4 linked regions of the Homo sapiens genome follow. The protein of the gene in region 2 interacts with the protein of the main gene of each other region in a pairwise test. Each region holds a gene or a part of one and is shown on either strand. Other genes may lie near its edges.

What was found.
Region 1: the proteins of E2F2 (region 2) and SPIB interact in a two-hybrid assay, tested with the Homo sapiens proteins (one study listed by BioGRID).
Region 3: the proteins of E2F2 (region 2) and KMT5A interact in a two-hybrid assay, tested with the Homo sapiens proteins (one study listed by BioGRID).
Region 4: the proteins of E2F2 (region 2) and RNF144A interact in a two-hybrid assay, tested with the Homo sapiens proteins (one study listed by BioGRID).

What each region holds. Positions count from the first base shown.
Region 1 is NC_000019.10:50,421,922-50,428,943, reverse strand, and holds part of SPIB (transcription factor Spi-B), read right to left. Parts: intron 6,472-7,022; coding exon 6,399-6,471; intron 6,122-6,398; coding exon 5,907-6,121; intron 5,340-5,906; coding exon 5,189-5,339; intron 907-5,188; coding exon 608-906; 3' UTR 1-607. UniProt on the Homo sapiens protein: Sequence specific transcriptional activator which binds to the PU-box, a purine-rich DNA sequence (5'-GAGGAA-3') that can act as a lymphoid-specific enhancer.
Region 2 is NC_000001.11:23,521,212-23,528,233, forward strand, and holds part of E2F2 (transcription factor E2F2), read right to left. Parts: exon of another isoform or gene 6,194-7,022; intron 5,860-6,193; exon of another isoform or gene 5,719-5,859; intron 3,568-5,718; exon of another isoform or gene 3,378-3,567; intron 3,278-3,377; coding exon 3,172-3,277; intron 846-3,171; coding exon 626-845; exon of another isoform or gene 375-625; coding exon of another isoform or gene 361-374; intron 1-360. UniProt on the Homo sapiens protein: Transcription activator that binds DNA cooperatively with DP proteins through the E2 recognition site, 5'-TTTC[CG]CGC-3' found in the promoter region of a number of genes whose products are involved in cell cycle regulation or in DNA replication.
Region 3 is NC_000012.12:123,387,110-123,394,131, reverse strand, and holds part of KMT5A (N-lysine methyltransferase KMT5A), read right to left. Parts: intron 5,222-7,022; exon of another isoform or gene 5,065-5,221; coding exon of another isoform or gene 4,950-5,064; intron 4,700-4,949; coding exon 4,578-4,699; intron 4,096-4,577; exon of another isoform or gene 3,790-4,095; intron 3,503-3,789; coding exon 3,346-3,502; intron 2,858-3,345; exon of another isoform or gene 2,702-2,857; intron 1-2,701. UniProt on the Homo sapiens protein: Protein-lysine N-methyltransferase that monomethylates both histones and non-histone proteins. Specifically monomethylates 'Lys-20' of histone H4 (H4K20me1).
Region 4 is NC_000002.12:6,913,359-6,920,428, reverse strand, and holds the start of RNF144A (E3 ubiquitin-protein ligase RNF144A), read right to left. Parts: upstream 3,018-7,070; 5' UTR 2,807-3,017; intron 2,028-2,806; exon of another isoform or gene 1,747-2,027; intron 1,636-1,746; exon of another isoform or gene 1,575-1,635; intron 1-1,574. UniProt on the Homo sapiens protein: E3 ubiquitin-protein ligase which accepts ubiquitin from E2 ubiquitin-conjugating enzymes UBE2L3 and UBE2L6 in the form of a thioester and then directly transfers the ubiquitin to targeted substrates.

The sequences.
Region 1 (7,022 bases), on a different chromosome or scaffold from region 2:
GGCAGCAGAATAGTTCCAGAGAATTGGGGGATCTCAAAAATGAGGGGACAGATGTGACAACACAGCCATAGATGGGCGAAGAGATCTGAGATGATAACAGCTCCCAGAGGGCCCCAGACATAACTAGGAAATCTCAGATCTGACAAGAGGGAACCTTGGACAGGGCTCAGGGTTGCCAGCAGGGCCCCCACCCCAGATGAGATTCAGGGTTTACAGACACACAGCGATCTTAAAAACGTCCCAGGCCTCACTGGGGAATCAGATATCACAAGAAAATCCCAGAGAAGCTCTTGGGATTCTGGAAGAACTGCTACCCTGCCTCCCCGAGTATAGTGGTCCATAGGTCCTGTCACCCAAAACATGAGGATCCCAGGGAGTCTGTACATGACAAAGAAATCCCAGAGGACCCCAGGCACAAGTGGGGAATCCCAGACAGGCCCGGGCTGGGCTTGGGGATTATGGCAGGGCAGCACTCCCCTTACCCCAAAAGGTGGGGATGCGTAAGTCCTATCACCTAGAGTGTGGGGACGCCCTTTTTCTTCCAGGGGGATCCTGGCTGGGACGTGAGGTCCCCCAGCGGCTCCGCAGGTGGGAGCCTCGGGTGTGCTCAGGCCCGGCGGACTGCAGGCAGCAGCGCGCTGTCGAACTGGTAGGTGAGCTTGCGCTTGACCTTGCGGATCTCGCCGGTCTTGGCGTAGTTTCGGAGGGCGCGCGCCAGCTTCTGGTAGGTCATGCGCTTGCGGTTCCCCTTCTGCTGGCCCCAGCGGCGCGCCAGGAGTTCCTTGTGCTTGGAGGAGAACTGGAAGACGCCGGCGCCTGGCTCCACCCACCACACGCACTCACGCATGTCCCCGCGCGTCAGTAGCCCCAGCAGGAACTGGTACAGGCGCAGCTTCTTGCGAGTCCCTGCGGTGGGGTCGGGGGCACGCGTTAGGTGAGGGGTCCCTAAGGCCCCGCCTTCCCCATCCACCCTCCTCCGAGACTTCCACCCCGGCCTCCATCTCCTGGATCTGAAAAGTGGGGTGAGGGAAGTGGCTGTTACATACACCTGGCTCTGCGCCCCTCACCACGGGGGGGGGGGGGGGCAAGCCACTCCCCCTGCCCGAAGCTGTCAGCCCCAGGCCCCCTCCGCGTTCTGTGCTTTAATTTTCGAGATTTACATCTGTCCTGCCTTCCGCCCTGCGGCCAGCACGTAATATTCCATATTTGTTGAGCTAGTGGATGAAAGAATCTGTGAAATGGGTTGACAGCGCCGCTTAAAGGATTATAACGGAGAGGCGAACAGATCTGGAGGCAGTTGCATTGGCCTGGCTATCTCTCCAGCTCCTGGTCTCCCAGCCTCTCAGCCCAAAGCGGGACAGGGTCCCGGGAGAGGCCAGGGCACCTGACTCCTGGGCTCCTAGGGTTTAGTTTGTTTTTGAGACGGGGTCTTGCTCTGCGGCCCAGGCTGGAGTGCAATGGCGCAATCTCGGCTTACTGCAGCCTCTGCCTCCTGGGTTCGAGCAATTCTGCTGCCTCAGCCTCCCGAGTACCTGGGACTACAGACGTCTGCCACCATGCCCGGCTTATTTTTATATTTTTAGTAGAGACGGGGTTTCGCCATGTTGGCCAGGCTGGTCTCGAACTCCTGGCCTCAGGTGATCCGCCCACCTCGACCTCCCAAAGTGCTGGGATTACAGGCATGAGCCACTGCGCCCGGCCAATAACTGGGAGTTTCAAAGCAGGGCACTGGCTACAAGAATCCCATCTCTGCCATTTTACAGCAGTGTGACCTTGGGGTGGTGACGTAGTGACATCTTAATTTCTTTTTTTTCAAGGCAGGGTCTCGTTCTGTCACCCAGGATGGAGTGCAGAGGAGCAATCACAGCTCACTGCAGCCTCGACCTCCTGGGCCTAAGCAATCCTCCTGCCCCAGCCTCCCCAGTAGCTGGGACTACAAGTATGCACCATCATGCCTAGCTAATTGTTTTATTTTTTGTAGAGATGGTGTCTTACTATGTTGCCCAGGCTGGTCTTGAACTCCTGGCCTCAGGTGATCCTCCCACCTCGGCCTCCCAAAATGCTGGGATTACAGGTGTGAGCCACTGCACCCGGATTGAATTCTTATAATTTTAGGCTGCCTCGGCATTCATCGAAAGTATAAGTTGGAGGCTGGGCGCGGTGGGCCATGCCTGTGATCCCAGCACTTTGGGAGGCCAAGGTGGGCAGATCACTTGAGGTCAGGAGTTCGAGACAAGCCTGGCCAACATGATGAAACCCGGTTTCTACTAAAAATACAAAAATTAGCTGGGTGTGCTTGGCTCATGCCTGTAATCCCAGCTACTTGGGAGGCTGAGGCAGGAGAATCACTTTAGCCCAGGAGGCAGAGGTTGCAGTGAGCTGAAATCATATCATTGCACTCAGCCTGGGCAACAAGAGCGAAACTCCCTCTCAAAATAAAATAAAATAAAACTAAATAAAAGTTGGACATTCTCATGCTGGAAGCAGGGCTGTCCTCCTTGGCAGTTCTACATCTCCCTCCCCGAGTTCCTCAGTGTGGCTGACCCAGATATCTCTCTTATGCAACTGACTCCTGGTGACCACCTCCCTGTGGGAGAGCCATGGACAGCCTACTTGACGGCCCTGCATGGACTGTGCAGATGCCTCAGTGACCCCCTCTCAGGCACAGCGTGACCTCCTGGAACTTGATCCTGCTTGCTTTCAACCCACCAAGTATTTATTTATTTATTTATTTTGAGCTGGAGTCTTGCTCTGTTGCCCAGGCTGGAGTGCAGTGGCATGATCTCAGCTCACTGCAAACTCTGCCTCCTGGATTCAAGCGATTCTCCTGCCTCAGCCTCCCAAGTAGCTGGGATTACAGGCGTGCACCACCAGGCCCAGCTAATTTTTGTATTTTTAGTAGAGACGGGGTTTCACCATGTTGGCTAGGCTGGTCTTGAACTCCTGACGTTAGGTGATCTACCAGCCTCAGCCTCCCAAAGTGCTGGGATTATAGGCATGAGCCACTGTGCCTGGCCTGAACCCACCAATTAAAACCCCCTCAGGAAACCTGTTTGGCCGACGCCTTGGACCCAATAAAGGCGTCAGTCCACTGGTCCCTCTCTCTCTCCCTCCCTGCCTGCGCTCCCTGACCTGGTGTGTGTGGCCTCCAGGCGTGCCATGTATGCCCCAGGACCTATAAGCCATAAAATAATTTATTTCTGGCTGGGTGTGGTGGCTCATGCCTGTAACTTCAGCACTTTGGGAGGCTGAGGTGGGAGGAGCACATAGGCTCAGGAGTTGGGAGTTCAGCCTGGGCAACATAGCGAGACCTCACCTCTACAAAAATTTTAAAAATTAGTCAGGTGTGGTGGTGTACGCCTGTGGTCCTAGCTACTCAGGAGGCTGAGGCAGGAGGATCGATTGAGCCCAGGAGTTTGAGGCAGTAGTGAGCCGAGATTGCGCCACTGCGCTTCAGCCTGGGTGACAGATGGAGACCGTCTCAAATAAATGAATAAAAATAAATAAAATCTTTATTTCCATCTTGTGTCTTTCCTAGTCATTGGAGAGATCCTCTCCATCTTAAATGTCCTAAGTTAAAATAGGTGACTTAATTAACCTCTCTGAGCTGAAGTCTCTCAGCCACAAATGAGGCTGTGTGGCTGGGCACAGTGGCTCACGCCTGTAATCCCAGCACTTTGTGAGGCCGAGACGGGCGGATCACCTGAGGTCAGGAGTTTGAGACCAGCCTGGCCAGATGGTGAAACCCCATCTCTACTAAAAATACAAAAAATAGCTGGGTATGGTGTGGGTGCCTGTGATCCCAGCTACTGCGGAGGCTGAGGCAGGAGGATTGCTTGAACCCAGAAGGTGGAGGTTGCAGTGGGCCGAGATCGTGCCACTGCACTCCAGCCTGGGTAACAGAGCGAGACTCTGTCTCAAAAAATAAATTAATTAATTAATTAAAATTTTTTAAATGAGGCTGTGGTTTTGTTTGTTTGTTTTTGAGACGGAGTCTTGCTCTGTCACCCAGGCTGGAGTCCAGTGGTGCAATCTCAGCTCACTGCAACCTTTGCCTCCTGGGTTCCAGCAACTCTCCTGCCTCAGCCTCCTGAGTAGCTGGGATTACAGGCATGTACCACCATGCCCCATTAATTTTTTTTTCTTTCTTTTTTCTTTTTTTTTAAGACAGAGTCTTACTCTGTCGCCAGGCTGGACTGCAGTGGCAAGATCTCGGCTTACTGCAACCTCTGCCTCCTGGGTTCAAGCGATTCTTCTGCCTCAGCCTCCCGAGTAGCTGGGACTACAGGTGCACACCACCACGCCTAGCTAATTTTTGTATTTTTAGTAAATGTGAGGTTTCACCATGTTGGCCAGGATGGTCTCGATCTCTTGACCTCGTGATCCATCCTCCTCAGCCTCTCAAAGTGCTGGGATTAAAGGCATGAGCCACCATGCCCAGCCTAATTTTTGTGTTTTTAGTAGAGACGGGGTTTTGCCATGTTGGCCAGGCTGGTCTCGAACTCCTGACCTCAGTTGATCTGACCGCCTCAGCCTCCCAAAGTGCTGGGATTACAGGCGTGAGCCACCACACCCAGCCTGTGTGTTGATTTTTACAATGCACCGTGGAGCATGTAGTGCCAGGTGCTTCACAAGGCACTTTACAGTTATGAGCTCATTGAATCTCCATCATAACCCCGTGAGATGGGGAGGATGACAGTGATGCCCACTTTACAGACGAGAAACCGAGGCCCAGACACAGAAAGGAAGGAACGATCTCAGCTTTCTTGGGGTTGAGCATAAAGGATGTTGGGCACACGGGCAGGGGGCAAGGGTTGAACCGTTGGGGGTTGATAGCATTATCATTTCTGTTGCTGTGGTGTCGGGAATGATGGTGAAGAGGTTGACTTATTGAAGTGCTCACTCTGTGCCTGGCACTGCTGTCCCATTTACACTTACTATCCCATTTAGTCCCCCCAACGACCTCAGGAGGGTAGACACTATCACCTCCATCCCCATCGCACAGACAGGAAACCTGGGCACAGAGAGGTAGAGGCACTTACCCAAGGTCACACAGCCAGCAGGTGGTGCGGATCTGGGAGCTGCCCAGAGTGCTGGAGTATATGTAGAGGCCCAGGAAGCCATGGTGCTCTCAGCCCCCCCACCATCTCCAGCTGGCATCTCCCCCACCCCAGCCACTCCCGCATACCTGCCTCGGATCCCTTCCCCTCGGGGCCAGCCACGAGGGCCTCATCCGACTCGCTGTCCGAGACCTCCAGGGCAGGGCTGTCCAACGGTAAGTCTTCCTCCTCTGATAGCACAGGGCTGGGGTACGGGGCATATGCCGGGGGAACCAGGGTCTGCGGAAGGTCAGGGTCACCTGCATGTCCAGGGACCCCTTGTCTCCCTCCACTTCCTCCTCTCAGGCCAAGGCGGTGGCCCTCCTGGCTCTGGTCTCCCTCTTTGTTGACAGCCTAGATTTTGGCCTTTGTTCAGATCACCACGCTGTGGCCAGGGGACACCTGAGGTACCTCCTCAAAGCCGGCCCAACACAGGTAATGCGAGTCTGCCCTGTCCCTGGCTTCCTGTCACTACCTCTCTTGACTCACTTGTTCAGAGGGGCAACAACGGAACGTAACCTGGGAGGCCGCTGCAGGGCTTACTATGTGCAGTCTCAATGCAGTGCCCGGCACCCAGCAAACCTCAACCAAATGACTGAGCTTGAGTTTTCTTTTCTTTTTCTTTTTTTTTTTTTTTTTTGAGACAGGGTCTTGCTCTGTTGCCCAGACTGGAGTGCAGTGGATTGCCTCGACCTTCTGGGCTCAAGCAATCCTCCTCCCACCTCAGCCTCTCAAGCAGCTGGGATTACAGGCGTGCACCACCACACCTGGTTTGGGCTTGATTTTAACTGTCCCCTTACCACTCACCTGGCTAGCGAAGTTCTCCGTGGGGTATGCAGGGAGGCCAGGCCCCGGGGCCTCCAGGCTGGGGGCCAGTTCGAGGTTCCCTGCAGGGCTGTAGGTGGGGGGTTCGTAGCAGAGCTGGGCAGCCTGGGGGTGGCTAAAAGCGGCTGCTGCCGGGTCGAAGGCTTCATAGGGGGTGGCTGGGACAGGTGGGGCCACAGTCCAGTCCCACAGGGAGTCTGGGGGAAGGGCACTGAGTCAGAAGCTGGGATGTCTCACGGAGGCCTCCTCGCAGTCGAAGCCCCCAGCACAGAGAGGCCATTGTAGGCTGTGCAAATCTCTGACCCCAGGATTTGCATGGAGGAGCGGATGGGTAGGAGAGGAAAGGGGAGGAGGGCTATAGGCCCGGGCCACCTTTATCCTGTTGTGCTAGGAAATGACCTCCCCTGGGCCTCAGCTCCCCTATCTGTGAAATGGGCCCCAAGGCAGGAAGGGCACAGGGCTGGGGTCACTCACCAGGAGCCCCCTCTGAATCAGGGTAGCTGGAATGCTTGCAGCTGTCCAGGTCATAGAAGACGCCATCTGGGTACTGATACGGGGTGCAGGAGGGAAGAGGGGTCATCCCAGGCCTTGGGGACTCCCAACCCCCACCCTGGACCCTTGGGGAGACTCCAACACAGACATGGGAGAGAAGAGGGGATGCTGGAGAGATTAGAGCAACAAAGAAACACAGAGACTAGGCATCAGAGACAGGGACAAAGAGACAGAGATACAGAGAGTAGAGACACAACCCAATAGGGGCACACAGCAGCCAGCTCCTGCTAAGACGGTGGGCTCCCAAGAACCCTGGCCCCTCACTGGCACACAGTCAGCGAATCAGGGCGCCTGGAGAAGGGGTGGAAGAACTCCCCCAGCCTTGCCTGCCTGGGGGCTCCGGAGGTGAAGGGCAAGGGGAAATGGAAGTGTTTCACTTAACAGAGGCAGGGGTCAATGCTTTTTAAATACACCTCCAGGCCAGGCGTGGTGGCTCACGCCTGTCATCCCAACACTTTGGGGGGCCGAGGCGGGCAGATCACCTGAGGTCAGGAGTTCAAGACCAGTCTAGCCAACATGGTGAAATCCCGTCTCTACTAAAAATAC
Region 2 (7,022 bases):
TGGAACCAGAGGTTTGGGGGTTGGGCTTGGGAGAAAAAACAAGTCAAGACCTGAACCCCATTTCTGAGGGGCTCTCGACTCTGTTCATCCCTATGCCCCAGCCTCCTCCAACTGGAGTAGCCTCAGTCCTGACTCCCTCCCCTGCCTGGTTTCTCTTAGGATTTATGCCAAGGGCTATAGGTCAGCTCTTTAAACCCTGTAGAAATGGAGAGAGGAGGCTGGAGTACTCCTATCTCAGATCTGGAAGGAGTCCGGGATCCCCCTACTTAGCTCCCAGGGGACTGCCCTAAGCTAGAAGAAGTGGATATTGGGATCTCTGACTCAAGAGGAAGAATCTGAGGTTCCCTTTGGCCTTTACACCTCCCAGATGTCATTCTCCACTCTGCCCCGCATCACGTTCTCCGATTACTTCAGCAGGTACACGGCGCTCTTCCTCACCATACATTGGCTCTACCCCCAGCAATAAGCCTATTGGATGTTGCTCTTGGTCCGCCTCAGCCCTTGTGCCCATTGGATGTTGCTCTCAGCCCCGCCCCTGCCACTCACACCCACTGGCTATTGCCTCTGGCTCCGCCCACAGCACAAGTACCCATTGGAGGGTACCACTGGCCGCCCAGGCACTCACACCCACTGGATGTTGTTCTTGGCCTTCTTGCGGATGAGCTGGATGCCTTCCAGCACGTTGGTGATGTCATAGATGCGCCGCTTCTGCACGTCCAGCACCTCAGCGGCCCAGTTCAGGTCCAGGACCCCATCCTCTGACTCGCTCAGGAGGTAAATGAACTTCTTGGTGAGCAGCCCCAGCGAAGTGTCATACCGAGTCTTCTCCCCGGGGGATTTGGGGGCTGAAGAAGAAAGGGACCCAGTCACAGCTCAGGGAGGGGAGGGCCCGCCCAGGACCCTCGTCCATTGACCTAGGCTCATTAAGTACCACCTTTCACCACCCACTTTCCAGTTTACAAAGCAGTGTGAGCCAGGGCATCCATCACCACCACTGTCCAGACAGGGAACCTGATACCTAAGAGGGAAGGTGACTTGCTTAAGGTCTCACGGCCAATGGGCAGTGTTGGAAGCCTAGTGTCCTGACTCCTGGTTAAATGCACATTTCCACCACAGCTTAGGGCTGCCAGACCACCACCCACAACTACTGTCACTGTTCTAAGTGCTTTCCATGTACGAACACATTTAAGCCCTACAACACCCTGTAAGGGTTGCTGTACAATCATCCCCATTTTATAGATGAGAATACTGAGGCACAGTTTAAGTAATTTGCTCAGCTCACTCAGCTAGAAAGTGGCAAAGCTGGAATTCAAATCCAGGCAGTCTGACTCCAGAGTTTTCCTTAACCATTACCCTATCCTGCCACTTAAATGTCCGGAGTTTGGAATTAGAATAGGGTAGAAATGATAAGCCTGGATTTAAGAGCATTTTTATAGACACACACTTGCTTTTTCTTCCCATGTGAATCACAATGATTATCTGAGAAAAATCGGTCCTGTAACATCAAGTCGGGGAGGTTCATGAGAAAGGTCCCTTTCTCAATGAGGTTGATGTTGCAAGACCACATCTCAGCTGCAGCATCTTAAACCACGAGGGGACTTTTGTAATCGAGTGACTTCCAAGTCATATAGCAAGTTAGTGGCCAATCCAGTAATTCTGGAACCTGAATTTTAGAGTCTTAGGTTCCTCTGGAGGAGGACCAGTTATCATGAGCCTCAGGATCCTTCAAGACAGTGCTCTGGGCAGCCTTGACCAATCAAATGTAGAGGAAACTTTCTTGCCATTCCTGATCTAGCTGTGTCTTCTTTTACACAAGACAACTAAGGTTCACAACAACTAAGGTTCACAGGAGTGACCTGTCAGGTCGGAGCAGAATCCTACCTGGACCCCCAAAACTAGTGTTCCTCCCAAACACAGTTGCTTTAACTCCTGCTCTAACCAGGATTTTTTTTTTTTTTTGGAGATGGAGTCTCACTCTCTCTCCCAGGCTGGAGTGGAGTGCAGTGGTGCGATCTTGGCTCACTGCAACCTGCCTCCCAGGTTCAAGTGATTCTCCTGCCTTGGCCTCCTGAGTAGCTGGGATTACAGGCATGCGCCACCACACCCGGCTAATTTTTGTATTTTTAGTATAGACGGGGTTTCACCACGTTGGCCAGGCTGGTCTGGAACTCCTGACCTCAGGTTATCTGCCCACCTTGGCCTCCCAAAGTGCTGGGATTATAGGTGTGAGCCACCACGCTCAGCCTATCCAGGATATTGACTGAAAATATCAAGAGGCAGCAACCCCCTCCAACTTAGCTTTAGGAAGGCACCACCTGGGCAGCCTCTGGATCTTAAAAACCTTTGGGGTGGCAGAGACTGGATTAATCTGTGCTTCCCTTCCCTTTGAATCACTTATTCAGCTCCTTGTCTGCATGTGGGAGAAAGACCCTGGTTAGCCCCTGCTCTTCTGATTTAGAAAAATTTACCTTGACCTAAACATTAAAACGTTTTAAAAATAATAAATTCCCAAATAAAACACTGGTCATTGAGTTTAGATCATGAGAGCAGTACATGGTATGGTAGAAGTAGTGCGAGACTGGCCAGGCATGGTGGCTCACGCCTGTAATCCCACCACTTTGGGAGGCCGAGGCGGGTGGATCATTTGAGGTCAGGAGTTTAAGACCAGCCTGGCCAACATGGTGAAACTGTGTCTCTACTAAAAATACAAAAATTAGGCAGGGATGGTGGCATGTACCTGTAGTCCCAGCTACCTGGGAGGCTGAGGTGAGAGAGTTGCTTGAACCCCAGAGGTGGAGGTTGCAGGGAGCCAAGATGGCACCACTGCAATCCACATTTGGTGACAGAGCGAGACCTGTCTCACAACAACAACAACAACAACAACAACAACAACAAAAAAAAACACAGAAGTAATGCAAGATTTACATGTCCAGGCTCTAGTCCTGACTCCACTCTGAGACTATGGGCAAGTCACTCAAGCTCTCTGAGTCTCAAGTTGCCTGATTAGTAAAGACAGACAAGCCTACCTACCTGGCAGGATCAAATAATAAAATACGCAGGAAGCTTTTGTAAACTGGAAAGTGATCCAAATATGACTACCAGTGATTGGGCAGGGCACTGCCCTCTGCCCCTGCCCCACCCCACCCCAGAGGCCCCATCAGCACTGCTTACTTTTGGGGCTGGGGAGGCCATCCACTCTGATGCACTTCCCCTTGGGGGTTGGGAACTCAGGGACGACGGGCCTCCCAATCCCCTCCAGATCCAGCTTCCTTTTGGCCTTGGAGAAAAGGGGGAGAGAGAGGCAGAGTTTGAGAATCATTCCTCCTTTAGCCTTTCCCTGATGTGGGGCCAAAGCAATGAAGCCACTTAGCAGCCACCTCTGTGCCTCAGTTTACCGCCAGTCCTGGTGAAGCACTGCTGTACTTGATAGGAAAACATCAGTGACCTGAGAAGTGAGCTTTCAGGGGAAATCTTGTTTTCTGAAGGGCAAATAAAACTCCCATCCTCTGAGGCCCAGGCACTTGAGACCCTACCAAAGCCAGTCTGGCCAAGGGCTCAGAGCTCCTTAACCACGGGCCCTAAGCCGGCTCCTATACCTGCTCCTCACCCCACCACACCCAGAGGATGATACCAGGAGGAAGCAGTGGGTGGGGCCTAAACCACATCAGGGTGGGGAAAGGGCCCCCCTACAGAAGCAGCTGGCCCAGCTAGACTGAGTGCCCATCACAGTCCCACAGCTGGTCCTTATCAGGGCGGGGCTGGGCATCCGCCCAGACCCAGGGGACTTCCTGGCTCAGTGCCACAACCCAGGGAGGTGCCCACAGTGGGAAGCAGTGCAAACATCCCCACCCCCATGTTTGGGCTCCAGCTTGAGGGCCCCAGGGCCTCCTGAATAGACTGCATTTGCCATTCTTTCTTTGCCGAGAGGGGCAGACAATGAATCCTTCCCGTGTCTTAAGGACAAGCAGCTGAGGCCACCCCCCCCCTCCAGCTCCCCCTTTCTGTTCCCGCCAAGCTTGGGAAACACCTGCTGGGGAAATCAAACCACAGACCCATCTGCTCCTCTCCACCCTGTTGCCACCCGGGCCCCAATTAGGCCCAGAGCTGCACTGGCCCGGAAAGGGCCTCTCTCCTGGTTAGGGCTGGGCAGGGGCAGGGCAGGGGCAGAGCTGGGGCACTGGGACACTGGGACATAGGTCAGAGACCCATGCTTGAATCTCCAGCTCCTTCGCAGGCTCACGGTACAAGTTGGGGGAAATGTTACACATCTAAGGAGCCTCAGTTTCTTCCTCTGTAAATGGGGTAAAAATGCCTACCTCAAGGGGCTATTGTAAGGATTCAAGGAAGGCACTACCTGGGCAGCCTCTGCATCTTAAAAACCCTGGAACAGGCTGAATTAATCCCCGCGTGGCTTCCCTTTGAAGCACTTATTTAGCTCCCTGTCTGCATGTGGGAGAAAGACCCTGGTTAGCTCCTGCTCCTTTAACTTCTGTAAAGTTCTCAGCCTGTGTCTCAGCACACAGTAGGTGTTCAGGAAACACAGAGTCCCTTCCCTAAAATCTAATCTCGACCTCTTCCTTCATACATCCTTCTGGGGGTCATCGAGCCCATTTCTTTCCTCTTTCCAACTCTGGATCCCCCAGACACCCCTACCCTGGCTTGGACAGAGAGGCCTATTTTAACATTTAGTGGTGAGGTCATGCTCAGCAGGGCTGAGACTTCTAACTGCTGCTGAGCACAGCTGGGCTGACAGGTGTTGGAGGTGGTGACAGCTCTTCCTGCTGTCAGTTCCCCTTCCCCCACTCCTGCCCCCTCCAGGAAGTCTTCCTGGGCTGATGTGAGGAGCCCTGCTCCTTGGTTTGAGGAGCCTGGATATAACACTCTTGCTTTCCACCACTACCGAGACCTGGAAACCATCCAAACACTTTACTGCTCATTCTTGAATGAGTCTCTTGAATATTCCTTTTCTACCTTCCTAACTGGTGAAATCCTATATTCTAGAGATTTAGCCCCATGCTGTCACTAGAGAAAGGGCCAGTCACTGGCTGAGACCTTCCACATGCCCTGAACCACGCCCCAACATTCATCACTTCACTGAATCTTCCCATACCACTAATCCCCATTGTACAGCTGAAGTAATTGAGGCTTGGGGAGCTCCGAGGCCTCCATCAATCCTGACCAAGGCTGCACATCCTAGTATTCTTCATATATCCCCCAGCAGGAGCACCAAGGGCAGGGAGAGGAAGGGAAGCTCAGGTGGAGTTCTACCTGAGGCAGAGGTGGGGCAGCCCAGAGCCTCCCCAGCCACACCTGTCTCCCCCGCCAGAACAAACCAGAAAGAATCCCAGGAAGACCTTGAACAGAATATCTATGCTGAGCCTGTTACATGCTCGTAACAGTCCTACCACATCAGTATTGGCACTGGCTCTCGGAAGCCAAAAAATGGAGACTTACAGAGAGTAAGCACATGCCCAAGGTCACACAAAGGCCGGAGCCAGGGTTTGAACCCAGGCCTGTCTGACTGCAAAGCCATGTACCAGGCTGCCTCAGCTGCATCCCACACACGCTGCCCCAGGATTTGCTAGAATTTGGGCCAAGGCCTGGGCTACGCCCACCTGCCCCCATCACTGCATGTACTTGCACACACACACACACACACACACACACACAGCCTTCTCTCTTTTCTCACTCTCCTTCACCCTTATTCTGCACTCCCAGGGTCCCAATGCGGCAAGTGTCCCCCTAAGGATACCTCCCTGACACCTTTGGACAGTGCCCAGAGGAAAGTCAGCCTATGGCTTGGGCTGAACCTGCAGAACACAGGTGGCAGAGGACAAGCCCAGGAGGATCAGCATCAAGGTGAGGCTGAGCACAGGTCTTGGAGTCAGACTGGCCTGGCTTTGCATCTAGGCCTTCCCCTTCTTAGCTGGGAAATCAGTTGACGTCAAGTCACCTATAAAATGGGCATCATTGTCTCCACCTATGCTGAGGATTCAGTGAGATAGTGCAGCAAAGCGCTTTGCCCATAGGGAGTGCCCCCACCAGGGAGCTGCTAGCACTGATGTATGGGGAGCACCAGTGGGAAAAGGGGAAAGTTCAAGGGTGAGCTGAAAAGAGACTGCGATGAGGGGAGGAGAGCAAAGGCTATGGCCACAGCCAGAGGCCAGCTTAGCCCTATCCTGGACGCTCTTAGGCAGCCCCTTTGGCTGGATCTTCAAGGCCTGGTCAGGACGCAAGCCCACCCTGCCAACCCCTATGGAGAAGAGTACAGCTCCTTCCTCAGGCAGCTGCAGAAGTGCAGAGGGTCAGAGATCACCAGGCACAACCCCCTTACGGGCACCACGGTGAGGAAACTGGGACTTGGGGAAGAGGAATTGACTTGCCCAAGGTCACGCAGAGTGGAGCCTGGTCTCTCCTAAGCCCTAAGTCAGATGGTGGGGGTAGGAGCAAATGTAAGGGGTCGAACCTTGCTTTCAGATCCCAGCTCTGCCACTTCGTAGCTGAACAGCCTGGGATTCACTGTCTTGCCTCTCTGAGCCTACACCTCCTCACCTGACCTGCCTTGTAGAGTTGTGTGTTAAAATGTTTATTTTCTTTCATGCCTCACAAGAGGAAATCTGGAAAATGTAGACAAATTGAAAGAAAAGGAGGACCGGGCGTGGTGGCTCACGCTTGTAATCCCAGCACTTTGGGAGGCCAAGGCGGGTGGATCACCTGAGGTCAGGAGTTCGAAGCTAGCCTGGCCAACATGGTGAAACCCCATCTCTACTAAAAATACAAAAAGTAATCCCAGCTACTTGGGAGGCTGAGACAGGAGAATCATTTGAACCTGGGAGGTGGAGTTTGCAGTGAGCAGAGATGGCGCTATTGCAAGCCAGCCTGGGCAGAGCTTCCTGCAGGCGTGAAAGAGAATGATGCCATGCGCCTGGCCAGAGGAGGCATGCGATAAAGGGGCATTCCCTGAGCCTTCCTCAGAGGACTTGGAAAGAGCTCTGGACAGGGAGCCAGGAGATCTGGGTTGT
Region 3 (7,022 bases), on a different chromosome or scaffold from region 2:
ACTCTGTCTCAAAAAAAAAAAAAAAAAGAAAAAAAAATTAAGTAAATAGTACGCTGCTCACAGATATAAAATGGTGCAGCCACTTTAGAAACAGTTTGACATTTTCCCAAAAAGTTAAACACAGAGTTACCATATGACCCAGCAATTTCACTCCTAGGCATCTATTCCAGAGAATTAAAAACATATGTCCCCAAAAAAATCTATGCAGGAACGTAACAGTTTATTTGTAATAGCCAAAAAGTGGAAACAACCCAAATGTCCATCAACAGATGAATAAACAAAATGTGGCCTATCCACAAAAGGGAGTATTATCCAGCCATAAAAAGGAATGAAGGGCTGGGCAGGGTGGCTCCCCTGAGGTCAAGAGTTCGAGACCAGCCTGGCCAAGATGGTAAAACCCCATCTCTACTAAAAATATAAAAACATTAGCCAGGCGTGGTGGTGTGCGCCTATAATCCCAGCTATTTGGGAGGCTGAGGCAGGAGAATAGCTTGAACCTGGGAGGCAGAGGTTGCAGTGAGCCAAGATTGCACCATTGTACTCCAGCCTGGGTGAGAGAGAGAGACTCCTTCTCAAAAATAAAAAAAAGGAATGAAGCACTGATACTTATTACACCGCGGATGAACCTTGAAGACATGATGCTCAGTGAAAGAAGCCAGACACAAAAGGCTATGTATTTTGTGATTCCATCCATATGAAATGTCCAAAACAGGCAAATCCACAGAGACAGAAAGTACTTTAATGGTTACCTTGGACTAGAGGGATGGGGAATCGAAGGTGACGCCTAATGGGTACCTTTCTGGGGTGATGGAAACGTTCTGGAATTAGACTGTGGTAATGGTTGCGCAACCCTGTGAATATACTAAAAACCACCGACTCATACGCTTTAACATGAACGTTATGATATATTAACTATATCTAGATAAACAAAACAGAAAAATAAATAAATACATTAGGCCGGGCACAGTGACTTCACCTGTAATCCCAGCACTTTGGGAGGCCAAGGCGGGTGGGCCACCTGAGGTCAGGAGTTCAAGACCAGCCTGGCCAACATGGTGAAACCCCATCTCTACTGAAAATACAAAAAATTAGCCGAGCGTGGTGGCGGGCACCTGTAATCTCAGCTACTTGGGAGGTTGAGGCAGGATAATTGCTTGAACCCGGGAGATGGAGGTTGCAGTGAGCCGAGATTGCACCACTGCACTCCAGACTGCAAGACAGAGCGAGACTGTGTCTCAAAAAAAACAAACAAAAACCATTAAAACCATCCAGATCTTTCTTCCTCCTCTACACACCTTCCTGGGTGAAATCAGAGAGAATTAAAGCCAGGACATCAGGCCCAGGAGTGTGTGGTGCCCGTGAACATTATCTATCACTCAGTCTGTATCACAGCAGAATCACGGACCACAGCCTGGACCTTGGGGTCTCCAAAGTCCAGCTGACCTAAATTCTTTTTATTTTTATATTAGAGATGGGGTTTCTCTCTGTTCCCCAGGTTGGAGTGCAGTGGCATGATCATAGCTCACTGCAGCTTTAAACTCCTGGGTGCTAGGGATCCTCCTGCCTTAGCCTCCCAAGCAGCTGGGACTACAGATGCATGCCACCATGCCAGGCTAATTTTTTTTGTTTTCATTGTTGTAGAGATGAGGCCTCACTATGTTGCCCAGGCTGGTCTCAAACTCCTGGGCTCAAGCAATCCTCCTGCCTTGGCCTACCAAAGTGCTGGAATTACAAACCCGAGCCACCATGCCCGGACTCTGACCCAAAATTCTAATCATGGCCATTTAGTAAAACCATGAGCCAAATATACTAGCTTGTATACCAGGCCACCATTTGGTACAATGTATAGACTGCCCTATTTTAAAGGACTAGAGTCCGGGCAACTACCATTTATAGACAGCGCCTCTCCCCAACCCTATGGGCAGGAATTCTAAGTGCCACAGGTCCAGGGATGAGCTGGCAGTCCAGGGGTGAAGAGCTGGCACATGGAGTCCACCACAAAGCCCTTTGGCATCCACGCTGCAACCACCCTTCAAAACAGTCCTGTGTGTGTGAGGTCAGACTCCTCTCTCCCCATTTACAGATGAGAGAACAGAGGCTCAGAAGAGAGCAGCAACCTATCTAAGCCTCCTTCTTTCAGGTGGCAAACTTAAGATTGGAACCCAAGTCATCTGAAGATCAAATAAAACAATATTGCCCTGTGTACCAGGGGAGATCAAGCACAGGGTGGGCTCCTGTCCCCAGTTCAGGGCTTGCCCAGCCCTGGTTCTCAGATCCGGCCCCAGAGGTCATGCCAAATCGTCATTTATGACACTTTCTGTTAGCGAACACAAGGCTTCCTTGTATGGAGCTGCTGGCAGCCAGAGGCTCTGCTTCTTTCAGACAAGTTTTAATTAGAAGAGAGCATGGTGAATTGGGGAAAGCTGACACTCCCCACTGCAGCTTTGAAAGGGAATATTTGGATTAGAGCAAGATGTCTAAGAGGTTTCAGTTTGTTTTGCAAGACCAGACCGTTTTCATTAACCCTGTATTTTCGGGTTTAACATTTTAACTCCAAATCTCATTGCATAGGATGCTGCTTCAGAAACTAACACCAAATGCTTGATTGGCAGGAAACTTTAGAAATGGGGTCAAGGCAGCTAGGCGCGGTGGCTCATGCCTGTAATCCCATCATTTTGGGAGGCCAAGGCAGGTGGATCACCTGAGGTCAGGAGTTTGAGACCAGTCTAGCCAACACGGTGAAATCCCGTCTCTACCAAAAATACAAAAATTAGCTGGGCGTGGTGGCGGCCGCTTGTAATCCCAGCTACTCAGGAGGCTGCAGCAGAAGAATCGCTTGAGCCCAGGAGGCGGAGGTTGCAGTGAGCTGAGATCGTGCCATTGCACTTCAGCCTGAGGGACGAGAGCGGAAATCCGTCTCAAAAAAAGAAAAAGAAATGGGGTCAAGGCCAGCTCATAAAAGGGAAGGAAGTCAGTTCCCTACATGAACACATTAGTTAGGTCTGCAATTGCCTGGTCTGTACAACCTGAATTCATGACTTCTGCACTTTCAGCACTTGTGAGCCTCTCTAATTGTGGGTCAGGTATGTTATTTTTGCAACTAAGCAAGACAATCAAGCTTGAAGGATATGCTAACTCTTGTGAAAGCAGGGAAAACCTGTCAAACCAACAGGGCACACACCCTGGGACAAGCCATTCTTTCAGCAGCAAGACAGAACATGGCTCAAACCTCTCGAATCTGAGACTGAAAAGGTTGGATAAATACATATGTGCATTCTTGCAGAGGACAGAGGCTTCTGCAACCCGACCAGCTGGGATCAGAACGAGGCCATTTCAAAAGCTTACCTTCTCGTTTCCTGTAGATTCCGGCTAATGGTTTCCCCTGGCATTTGACTTCGTGATGTGTAACTGAGTTCTCTTCCTGAAGGGGGAAACGCATTCCAGAGCATTTGTTCGGGCTCATGTAGGAATAGATCTTTGACTGCCCGGTAAATACGTTCTCCTAAAAAGACAAAAGCATATTCTGAAAGAGGCTTGAAGAAGAAGATCCTAGAGCATTCACGAGGAGGAGGAATACAAAAGATGAAAATCAGACAACACCGTTTTTCAAAAACTGGGCTACCAGGGGATGCCAGCCCCCATTGTCTCAGGAGAGCACTGGCAGGTTTAGAATCCCAGGTCCAGTGAAACGTTTCCTAAACGCGCTGGTCTCTAAATCACTAAGGGGACAGCTGGCCAGCAGGAGAGTCGGCTGCAACCCAAGGTCTATATAGGAAGAAGACAGCCTACCCGCAACAGGGAGGTCAAAAGGACCTGGGCATGTGAAGAGCTAGGCTATCTTTAGGAGTTCACTGCCCTGGCAGGAGCCGCAGGGACTCAGCACAGAAACACGCCCCGGGGAACCTGATTAACCACTTGGTGCTGAGGGCGGCTGGAGGGCCTGTCAGCACAGCCAGAGCCCCATGAGCGCCGGAGCCTGACCCCTCTCAAATCACTGCAGCCCCGCAGCCTCCAGGGCTGCGACGGGAGGACTTCTCTCAGGGTGACTGGGGAATCTGGGAAGAGCAGGAGCCACAGCCAGCGCATTCGGGGCGGCCACTTTGTCGCAAGCCGCACCTGGGCGTCAGTAAGAGAGTGGACGGGGCGGTGGGGCGGTTCAGGTCACTGCGGGCGCCTCTGGGCGTGGGGCCCCTCCTCTGAGTAAGTACAGACGGAGGAGGGCGTCCCCAGAAGCAACGCCGGGCCCTCGCCGCCTCGGGGACCATTCAACACCGAGGCGGTGAGACCCGTGACCTCTCCGAGGGGCCCGCGCAGGCCCCGCACAGCCTGGGACCGCGGCCACCTCCGGGGAAGTAGGGTCTTGGGCTGCGGAGACGCCACGAAGGCGCAGTCAAACTTTTCCGAGGTCAAACACCGCCAGGCTCATGGCGGAGCCGTGTGGGCGCCACTCCCAGCCAGGCGGCAGCAAAGGAAGCGGCCCGGCCGGGCGCCCCGGGCGGGTACCCGGGGTCGCCCATGTGCTCGCGGCCCCGGCCCGGCGGGCGCGCCGCAGGGGTGCGGGGAGGGTGCCTGCTTACCCCGTCGGTGCGGGGCCTCCCCGGGCCCCTCCGCTCCACCATCTCCGGGCCCGGGGCCGTCGCTGCCACCGCCGCCGCCGCCGCCGCCGCCTCCACCGCGCGGGGCTTGGACATCTTCCTGCCTGGAGAAGGGGACCCGGGGGAAGCGGGGGAGGGGGCGCTCAGGGCGCGGCGGGGCGGGGAGCGGGGCCGCCCGGGCCGGGCGCCGCGACGGCGCCTCCCGCCGCAGCCATATTTCGAGGCCCCGGCTCTGGTGAGCCGCCCGCGCAGCCGGGAGGGCCGGGCCGGAGCCCGCGTCGCCCTCCCGCCGCCCGGCCCGGCCAGGCCCCGCGCGCCGCCCGCCCCCCGCGCGGCCGGGCCCGACACACCCACCTGCAGCCCGGCCAGGCCCATGGCGGCGCGCCCCGCGCCCTCGCCGCCGCCACCAGCGCCGCCGCGGCGCCCCGGGGAAGGGCCGGCGGCGCCCCACGGCGCCCCCTTCCCCCATGGCCGGCGAGGCAGGGCCCGGCACCCGCGCACCGCGGCAGCCCCGGGCCGCCCGGGGCGAGGCACGAAGGGAAGGAGGCGCAGGCGGCGCGTCCTCCGCAGCCCTCCCGCCCGCTCGCAGCCGCCCACCGTCCGGCGCCCGGCCCGGGGAGGGGGCTGGTAGGGGCGGCGCCGCCAGGCCGCTCCGGAGGGCGGGCGGGCGGGCGCGGCGAATCCCGGCTCGGGCGCGCCCCCTCTCGCGCGGCCTCAGCCACTCGCGGAGGAAGGGGTGGGAAACACCGTCATGACAGCCCAGGCTCCCGCCCGCCCTCCCGCCAGCCCGCCCGGCTCCTTTTTCCGCTGGCTCTGCGGATATTTTGGGAACCCGGTCTGTGCCAGACGAAATCAGCAGCGGTGAACGCGCCAGGCCAGGCCCTCGGGTGTGCCCGGCGCTGTGCCCACCGAGAGTTTCACAGGCATTGAATCCTCCCCGCACGCCCACGGGGGCAGGTCCTGTCGGCATCCCAGCTTACAATGGTGACACTGTGACTCAAGGGATGTGCAGGGGTTTGTCCCGGGCCACAGAACTAGGAAGTGATGGGGCCAGGTGTCAAACCCAGAAGGGCTGTACTTGACCGGTAGGAAGCCCTGGGGAGACAGAGCCAGGGGTTATAATGATCGGTTTCCTGGGCGAGTCTCTTGCCGTTATCTCACTGAAACCTCACAGCAGCCCTGCAAAGGTAGACACCATTATTATCTCTTTTCAACAGATGGAGAAAGTGAGGAGCTTGGCCAAGTTCTCAGAACTAGATGGGTTTTCAGCCCCAGCCAACTGACCCCAGGGCCTTGCCCTCCCAGCCACTACCCTTCCTGGTTACAGATGAGGAAATGGAGTTTGGGAGAAGCAAATGGTCTTGCAGAAGGGTTTAACATGTCACCTTGTTCTCCTATCCCGCCGTGAGAAAATGCCCCCATAGGCAGACGAGGTTCCCGTCACTCTGGTGGCTGTTTCAGCATAGCTCACTGCCCTGCACCACTACTCTGTGGCCATTAAGGCTTGAGGGCCCACAGCCAGATTCACTGTATTTGTGCAAAGTCATAGATGCAAACAAGACACTTCAAGGCATCCAGCTCCTGCAGCCTGGCCCATGGCCTGGGAGTCAGGGGCTGGACTTATTTCCCTGCATCTGCCCAGAGGTGTTTTGTGACCATCGCCAAGTCACTTCCCCAGTCTGGGCCTCAGTGTCCTCATGGGTAAAAACCAAGAACCTTGAATTCCATAATCCACCAGAGCACCTTCCAACATCCACAGATAAGCAAATGGCTGTTTGTAGCCATCCTCCCACCTAGCCTCCCTCGACTCCCATTGGAACGGATAAGACTGAGTAGGATTAGGTGGTGACAGGTCACTGCTCAGACAATCCCTCCCAAATCAGCTCATGCTTTAGCATCCTTCAAGGCAGGGTCTCCAGCCCAACCACTAACTCCAGTGGGCTAGGTACTCTGCCTATGCCCTCTGCAGAGCCTACTACAGTTGAATATCCAAAAGATTACCCAGAGGGTGAAAGAGGATTCGAAAGTGACACTCTGATAACCAGGTTGAGCCATTTGAAAGCGTCTTCTATTTCTGCAAGGCAGAGAAGTTTTGCAGCTTAACTGCCATGAGAATCATGGTTTTGGAGCAGGAAGCACCCACATAGATCATCTTATCCATTTCACATTCTAGTATACCGAGCCACACCCCACGCCCCACTCATGGTCATAGCTTTCTCTGCATTTGAGCCCCCAATTGCAGGGGACACATTACAAGTCTAGCACCTATTCCTCTCAATTCTGCAGCTCCAGTACCTAGAAGATGTAAATACAGATCATTCAATGTAAGTTTCAAAACAGTCCTTTCTCCGCAAGTTTATACGTATATAACAAATACACCAGCTGGGCGCAGTGGCTCACACCTGTAATCCCAGCACCTTGGGAGGC
Region 4 (7,070 bases), on a different chromosome or scaffold from region 2:
CAGAACCAGAAAAGCTGATGCCAGGGCTGGACCAGCCACAGCTTTTCATGTGGCCTGGGCTACCTGACCCCTCCTTTCCAAGCTACGAGGTTCCCATGGTTACAACAAGGGTTCATAGGCCAGGTGGGTGCTGGCCCACCTGGTTCTGTGATTGTCAGTCTCCAAGGGCAGGCTTCCTTCCCATCTCTACCCCCAGAGGGAAAGGCTTCCAGGAGGGAGAAATGTGAACAAAAGTAGGCAGTGGGGCCACGTGGTGGACCACAGGGGAAAGAATGTTCTCAGAGGCAGGCAACGTAGCTTGTAGCTCCCAACCCTGCCGCCGCCTGCCAGAGTGGCACTTCTACCCCTGAACCTCAGCAGCTTCAGCCAAACAGTGTGAGGTCCCTTCAAAGTCCCAAACCACACTGAATCCCCAGGAGACGTGACTTACTCTAGCAACAGTCTGGATACAGGGATTACCAACTAGCAAGCTGAGGGCACTGGAATCTATTTATAAAATATATGCATTTTACAATGCTCTTTGAGTTTCCCAAATCCTCATGGCACAGATGACCTGGGGGTGCCTGCATCGTGCATTTGAGTTTGCCCTTCATTAGTTCCTCTTCCAGAGTTGCTGACATTAGAATCGGGAGCTCTTTAAAAACACAAACTGCAAAAATCAAATTGCACTGGGTCTGGAAAATTTCCATCCCATTAAAATTGGGTTATTTGCACCCATTTTCTCATGAGGTCCTCAATCCATCCACAGCCTTTGATGCCTGATGCAGGTGGAAGCCCACAGCCAGTGGGGGTCTGACTCGGAAGCCACAGTAAGGCACACCACACCATGCCTTCCCTTCCACGCAACACCGCGGAAATCACTCTAAAGCAGGGCTCAGATCACCCTCCTCCTCCAAAACCATCAATGGCTCCCACTGACACAGAGTCAAACCCAAAGTCTTGGCCTAGAATTCAAAGATTTCATGATTTATCCTCTTCTGACCCCTCTAGTCACATTTCCTTTGCACGCTTTAAAAATAAAAACAAAAATGTAAAAGGCATTAGAAAAGTGCAAAAAACAAGGTTCCCTAATCTCAGTACCGGAGAAGAGAATACAATAAAAAAGGCTGTTGTCTCCTTTGGAGCCACTGGGTGAATCCCCTGGGAAAGTTCACGGTGTCACACACCTTGTCCCTCCCCCTTCCTGCGCTGGAGCAGCTCTCTCTGGACAGAGGCCCTTCCTGCCACCTCTGACCTGCCCCACCTGCAAGCTTTGACTCAGACACCCCCTCCCTTGCAAAGGGGACTCCCTTTGCAGGGACACCCTGACTCCCTCCCTTCCCTCCTGGGGGCTCCCACAGCTCCACAGGCGTCTACACCAACTTACTTTCTACCTGGCATTTCATTTACAAATCCATCTTATCTGCCAGGCTCAACTCTCAACCCCAGCCCCATTCACTGGGGCATGTCCTCCTTCCATCTCCCAGGCCCCATTACGGGAAGTGTTTTCTTCCCAGGCTCTTAGTGCAGGAGCTAGACCCCCTCTCACCGCAGGGCAGCAGGGATCCACTGGGGATAGTTCCCTGGGGCCTTACCTCACTCCTCTGTTACCCCAGCCTTGATCCTGCAGGAGGCAGCGCAGGATGTTTGTTCAATGGATTTTTTTTTTTTTTTTTTTTTTTTTTTGAGACGGAGTCTCGTTCTGTCGCCCAGGCGGGAGTGCTGTGGCGCGATCTCCGCTCACTGCAAGCTCCGCCTTCCGGGTTCACGCCATTCTCCTGCCTCAGCCTCCCGAGTAGCTGGGACTACAGGCGCCCGCCACTGCGCCCGGCTAATTTTTTGTATTTTTAGTAGAGAGGGGGTTTCACCGTGGTCTCGATCTCCTGACCTCGTGATCCGCCCGCCTCAGCCTCCCAAAGTGCTGGGATTACAGGCGTGAGCCACCGCGCCCGGCCAGTTCAATGGATTTTAAAAATTATTATTCTCTAGAAAAAAGACCACGAACTTTGGAGTGGACATCCTGAGACCTGCCTACGAAGACCATTAGGGTAAAGAAGTCACCCCTTCACCCCAGGACCAGGAAGCCTCCAGGATGGCATAAGCGACCAAACAGCTGGGAGCCAAGCACAGTGCAGGGGGCTTGGGGTCGGCGGCCGGAGGCTGGGGTGGGTAAGACCCGCAGGGAACTCCGGGGCTCGGGCGGCGGCTCATTCCCCGGGAAAGGGCTCGCGGTGGGGACCAGGGGCAGTAGCAGCCGCGGACCCCGCGCGCAGGGGATGTGCGGGGCATCCTCTTGGCCAGTTCCGACCTTCCCCGCCGGTGGCGATGCCCCGGACGCGTCGTCCTTTCCCAGACCTCCTCTTGGGGCCGAGGCTCCAGCCCCAGGGTCTGCGGGCGGGGCCGCGAACCTTGAAAGCCCCCGCCGCCAGCTCGCCCGCGGGACCCTGGCCCGGGGCGCCCTGTCCCGCGCCGCAGCGCAGACCCGCGACCGCGCAGGGCAGGCAGGGGGACGCCAGGTCCCTAAGCGCCCACTGCCCTGGGGCGCGGGCGCCGCCTGCGAGAGGCAGGGCAGGGCAGGAGCAGAGCAGGGACGAGGTCAGGGACACGGGCAGGGCAGGGCGGGCGTCCTCTGAACGGAGCCCGCGAGTCCCCGCCCGGGACGCTGCCCCCCGCCCGCTGCCACCGGGCGCCGGGGCAGGACCCAGCGGGGCAGGCGCGGCCGCAAGCCCCGAGCCCCAAGGCCGGCCGCGCAGCGCCGCGTCCCGCCCTCCCCGCTCCGCGGCCGGCCCGGGCGATGCGGACACAAAGGGGACGCGCGTCACTCTACCTGGGCCTGCTCGTCCGCGGTGCGCGGCTCTGACGCCTCCGCCCGGTACTGGCTGCGGGGTGCCGGGTGCCCGCAGTTTGCCGCCCGCGCCTCCCCGCGCCCGCGCAGCCCGCACGGCCCGCACTGCAATGCCAGCCCTGCCGCCTCCCGCCTGCCGAGAGCCCGCGCGGGGAGAAGCGGCTGCGCGGGCGGGGCGCGAGCGCGCACAGAGGCCGGGCACGCGGGAGGCTCGGCCCCGGCCCCGCCCCCGCGCCGAGCCGCACAGCGCCCCCTGCCGCCCGCCTGCGCCGGCCCGAGGCCCGGAGCCGCCCCGCAGGCCCCAGGACAGGCTCCGGCACGAGGAGGGGCTGCGGAGACCGCCCGTGCACGCTAACATGAAAATGCTATTCCTGCTTTAGTGGCCTCCAGAAGACACTCCCCTGATTCCTACACCGAGGGAACACACAGCAGCAAGCTAGGAAAGAAGGGGTGACCCAGCCCAACGCTGTAAACCAGGGCGCGAACCGGCGTTGAGCTGTGCAGCTGCGCCCTGGGCTCCAGTCCTGCTCTGCCGCAGACCCCACCGGAGCCAGCACCTGCCTCCCCGACCCTCGCTGGGGCGGCTGTGAGATGAGCCCAGAGCCTTCCTGAGCCAACCCTCGCAAGGAAAGTCTGTCTGTTCACCCCACTATCCTTGTCTTGAAGGATGAAGAAAAGAGGGCCCCCCGGGAGGTCCCAAAAGGTGGAATGGACATCTGGGATCCAAGCACAGCAATTTCTTTATTTTTCTTAAGGTATCCAGCTTGTTGGAATCTAAGATCTGCGAAGGTATTAATAGAATTCCTGCATCTTCTGCCACTCCCCATAGAAGCTTGAAGTTACACAAATGTTAAATTATACGTCAGATGTGCATATATGAACAAAACCTACGAGTGTGCATGAAATAACACCTTCTTAAATATATAGATTCTTTTTTCTGCAATATTAAATGGAAACCCCACTAGAACATCGTTTTTCCTTAATAGCATACCCTCCACACTGTGTGGTCTAAATTCAAGCTCTACCACCTACTAGCCATTAAGCAAGTTATTAAGGTCTTCGTGCTTCCATTTTCTTACGTGGAAAATGAGGTGGCAATAGTATGTATGAGTTCTTCGGAGGGATTAAACAAGTCAAATAGGCCAAGTGCCATGGCTTACACCTGTAAGCCCAGCACTTTGGGAGGCCAAGGCAGGAGGACTGCTTGAGCCCAGGAGGTCAAGGCTGAAGTGAGCTGTGTTTGCATCACTGCACTCCAGCCTGGGCAGCAGAGTGAGACTTTGTCTCTCAATAAATAAAGAAATAGTCAAATTAAATATAACTGGCAAACTAAAACAACTCCATAGTCCTTAGCTACAATTTGTCTCATTTCTCCAAAGAATTAAATCAGATGATTCTTAACTAACTCAAAGCTCTGCATAATTTGTCTTCTGCTACACATACATCTTTATAGTAAAATAAAATAAAGCTGTCCCCTCTGTATTGAGAAGTTATTCTGGTAAATATTTGACCTCTTCAAATATATGAACGAGCACTTGCCTTCTAATGCCTCAGTTTCAGATTCTTTTTAGAAATGTCATTATTCAAGAAAAATGCACAATGGGAAGAATCTTAACAACAGCACTTTGTTACTTCAGCCTCTCACTAGAGGATGAAAATCGTTCTGCATAAAGGCCTGGGCTTTATGAAAAATATATTCACACCTCCCGTGTCCGAGCTGGGATACCAAAGAAGTTCCTGGTTGAGTACTACTTATGAATGAAGGATTCAGGGGATGCACAGGTGGGTGACTGCAAATGCACAGACGTTGTGCTGTGTTCCCCACAATAAAGGGGTCTGTATTAAGATGCAGGCATTCTCATGGAACACAGACGTATAACACTCAAGCTGGGGGACTGCAAAGGAGCATCTGGGGCTGCAGGAAGAGAGTTAAGGTGCAAAAATGCCCTGACCCAACTGAGACTTGTAATTGCTCATGTGGTAATACATGTGACTTCATTCCCCTGCTCTGTCTTTGTGAATGCAACCATTGTTGGGGAGATAGTGAGAGGGGACACTGGCATTGAAAGTTTTGTTTGCAGCAGGCCTCAAAAGGCACTCAGATGCAGATTTCCCTGCAAAGACTTCCCGGCCTATCATGGAGTTCCCCATCCCTAGATCTCTGATCTCTGAGCTGGTGTAATACTTAGTCTTTGTCTGTGTTGATCATGGCATCTGCCACACTTAATGTTTGTGGCATTCACTTTCTGATGCTTAGATCTTACGATTCTAGAGAACAGCATTTTTCTACATATTCCCTCTTAGGGCCTTGAACATAATAAGTGCTCAATAAATACTGAGTGAAATCCTCTACTCTGAGCTTTGCCTCTGAGCAGCTGTCCTAGTTCTCTCCAACAAGAAGTTTGTTGGGTCTCTCAAGTTCACTTCCACCTGTCACTGTCAGTTTTCAGTCCAGCCCCTTACTCAGGTCTGGCTGGCCCATCTCCCCCAGAGGGCTGTCCCATAGAGCCCATTGTAAAGGACACTCATTGTTGCCAAGAGTTTGTGCCAATGCAGTATGACTCACCCTTCACTCATTGAACAAGCTCTTCCTGATTACCTAGATGGGCAAAATTTCCCTGCTCATGCGAAGCAGGCTGGCGACTCAGTGCTGCAGCAAATGGCCCAGAAGCTGGGAAAGCAGATAGCCGTTCTGACACTTCTCTTCTAGACAGAAAATCAAGGGAAGCTCAAGACCCACACTTGAATTTTTTTTAAAAAATTAGACAAGGGGCTGGGTGTGGTGGCTCATGCCTGTAATCCCAGCACTTTGGGAGGCCGAGGCAGGCAGATCACCTGAGGTTGGGAGTTCAAGACCAGCCTGACCAACATGGAGAAACCCCTGTCTCTGTTAAAAATACAAAATTAGCCAGGCGTGGTGGCACATGCCTATAATCCCAGCTACTCGGGAGGCTAAGGCAGGAGAATCGCTTGAACCCCAGAGGCAGAGGTTGCGGTGAGCCGAGATCGCACCACTGCACTGCAGCCTGGCAACAAGAGCGAAACTCAGTCTCAAAAAAAAAAAAAAAGAAAGAAAAAGAAAAAGAAAAGAAAAAAAATTAGACAAGGAAGTTTATGTGAATTTGTAATCACACATTCCATAAATATAGAAAATTCACTTTTTTTATTTTAAAAATTAACAAATTCCATTTCTTGTTTCTCTAGAGTAGCAGGAAATCAAATGTCAGTTCTCATTCTGACTTTCTCTCCTTAAGGACACAGAGGAATCTGGGGGATATTATGGTTCTGGGAATGTGGAATGTAACGTCTCATCTTCAGCCCATCTGTGCTACTGATCATCTCATTCCAGAAGCCATGCCTTCTCTCAGGAGCAGACAGCACAAGACTTTCCTGCCAGAGGCACAGTCCCCAGGTGAGCCACACAGCCTTCACAGGGTAATGCCAAAGAACAGAGGAGAGTTCCTGCTACTCTCCGGGTCTTCTTGGCAAAGCTTCTGATACAGTCTGGCTGTCTCTCCACCTGAATCTCATCTTGAATTGTAGCTCCCATAATTCTCGTATGTCATGGGAGGGATCAGGTGAGAGGTAACTGAATCATGGGGGTGGGTCTTTCCTGTGCCGTTCTCGTGACAGTGAATAAGTTTTATGAGATCTGATGGTTTTATAAAGGGGAGTTCCCCTGCAAATGTTCTTGCCTGCTGTGACTTTGCTCCTCCTTGCCTTCCGCCGTGATTGTGAGGCCTCCCCAGTTATGTGGAACTGTGAGTCCATTAAACCTCTTTTTCTTTATAAATTACCTAGTCTCAGGCATGTCTCTATTGGCAGTGTGGGAACAGACAGACTAATACAGCTTCCCTTGTCTGTACTCTTACCCTTCTCCCTTCAAAAGCATCCTCTCTTTCTTTTCCAACCTTTCCAACCTCTCGAATAATCTCTGCAGTGGGAGTAGCATCCACATAAGACAGGATGCAGAGATGTCTTCAAGCAGCTTCAAACAAAACTTCAAGAAAGAAAGTGCAAGTGAAAAAGGAAATTCATCCTTCCAGTCACTTAACACAGCACTGTCACGGACACCTTGTGCCTCCTTAAAATTCGTATACTGAAGTTCTAAGCCCCAGTACCCCAGAATGTGACCTTCTTTGGAAATAGGGTCATTGCAGATATGATTAGTTAAGAGGAGATCATACTGGAGTGGGCTTTAATCCAATATGACTGGTGTCCTTATGTAAAGGGGAAATTTGGACAC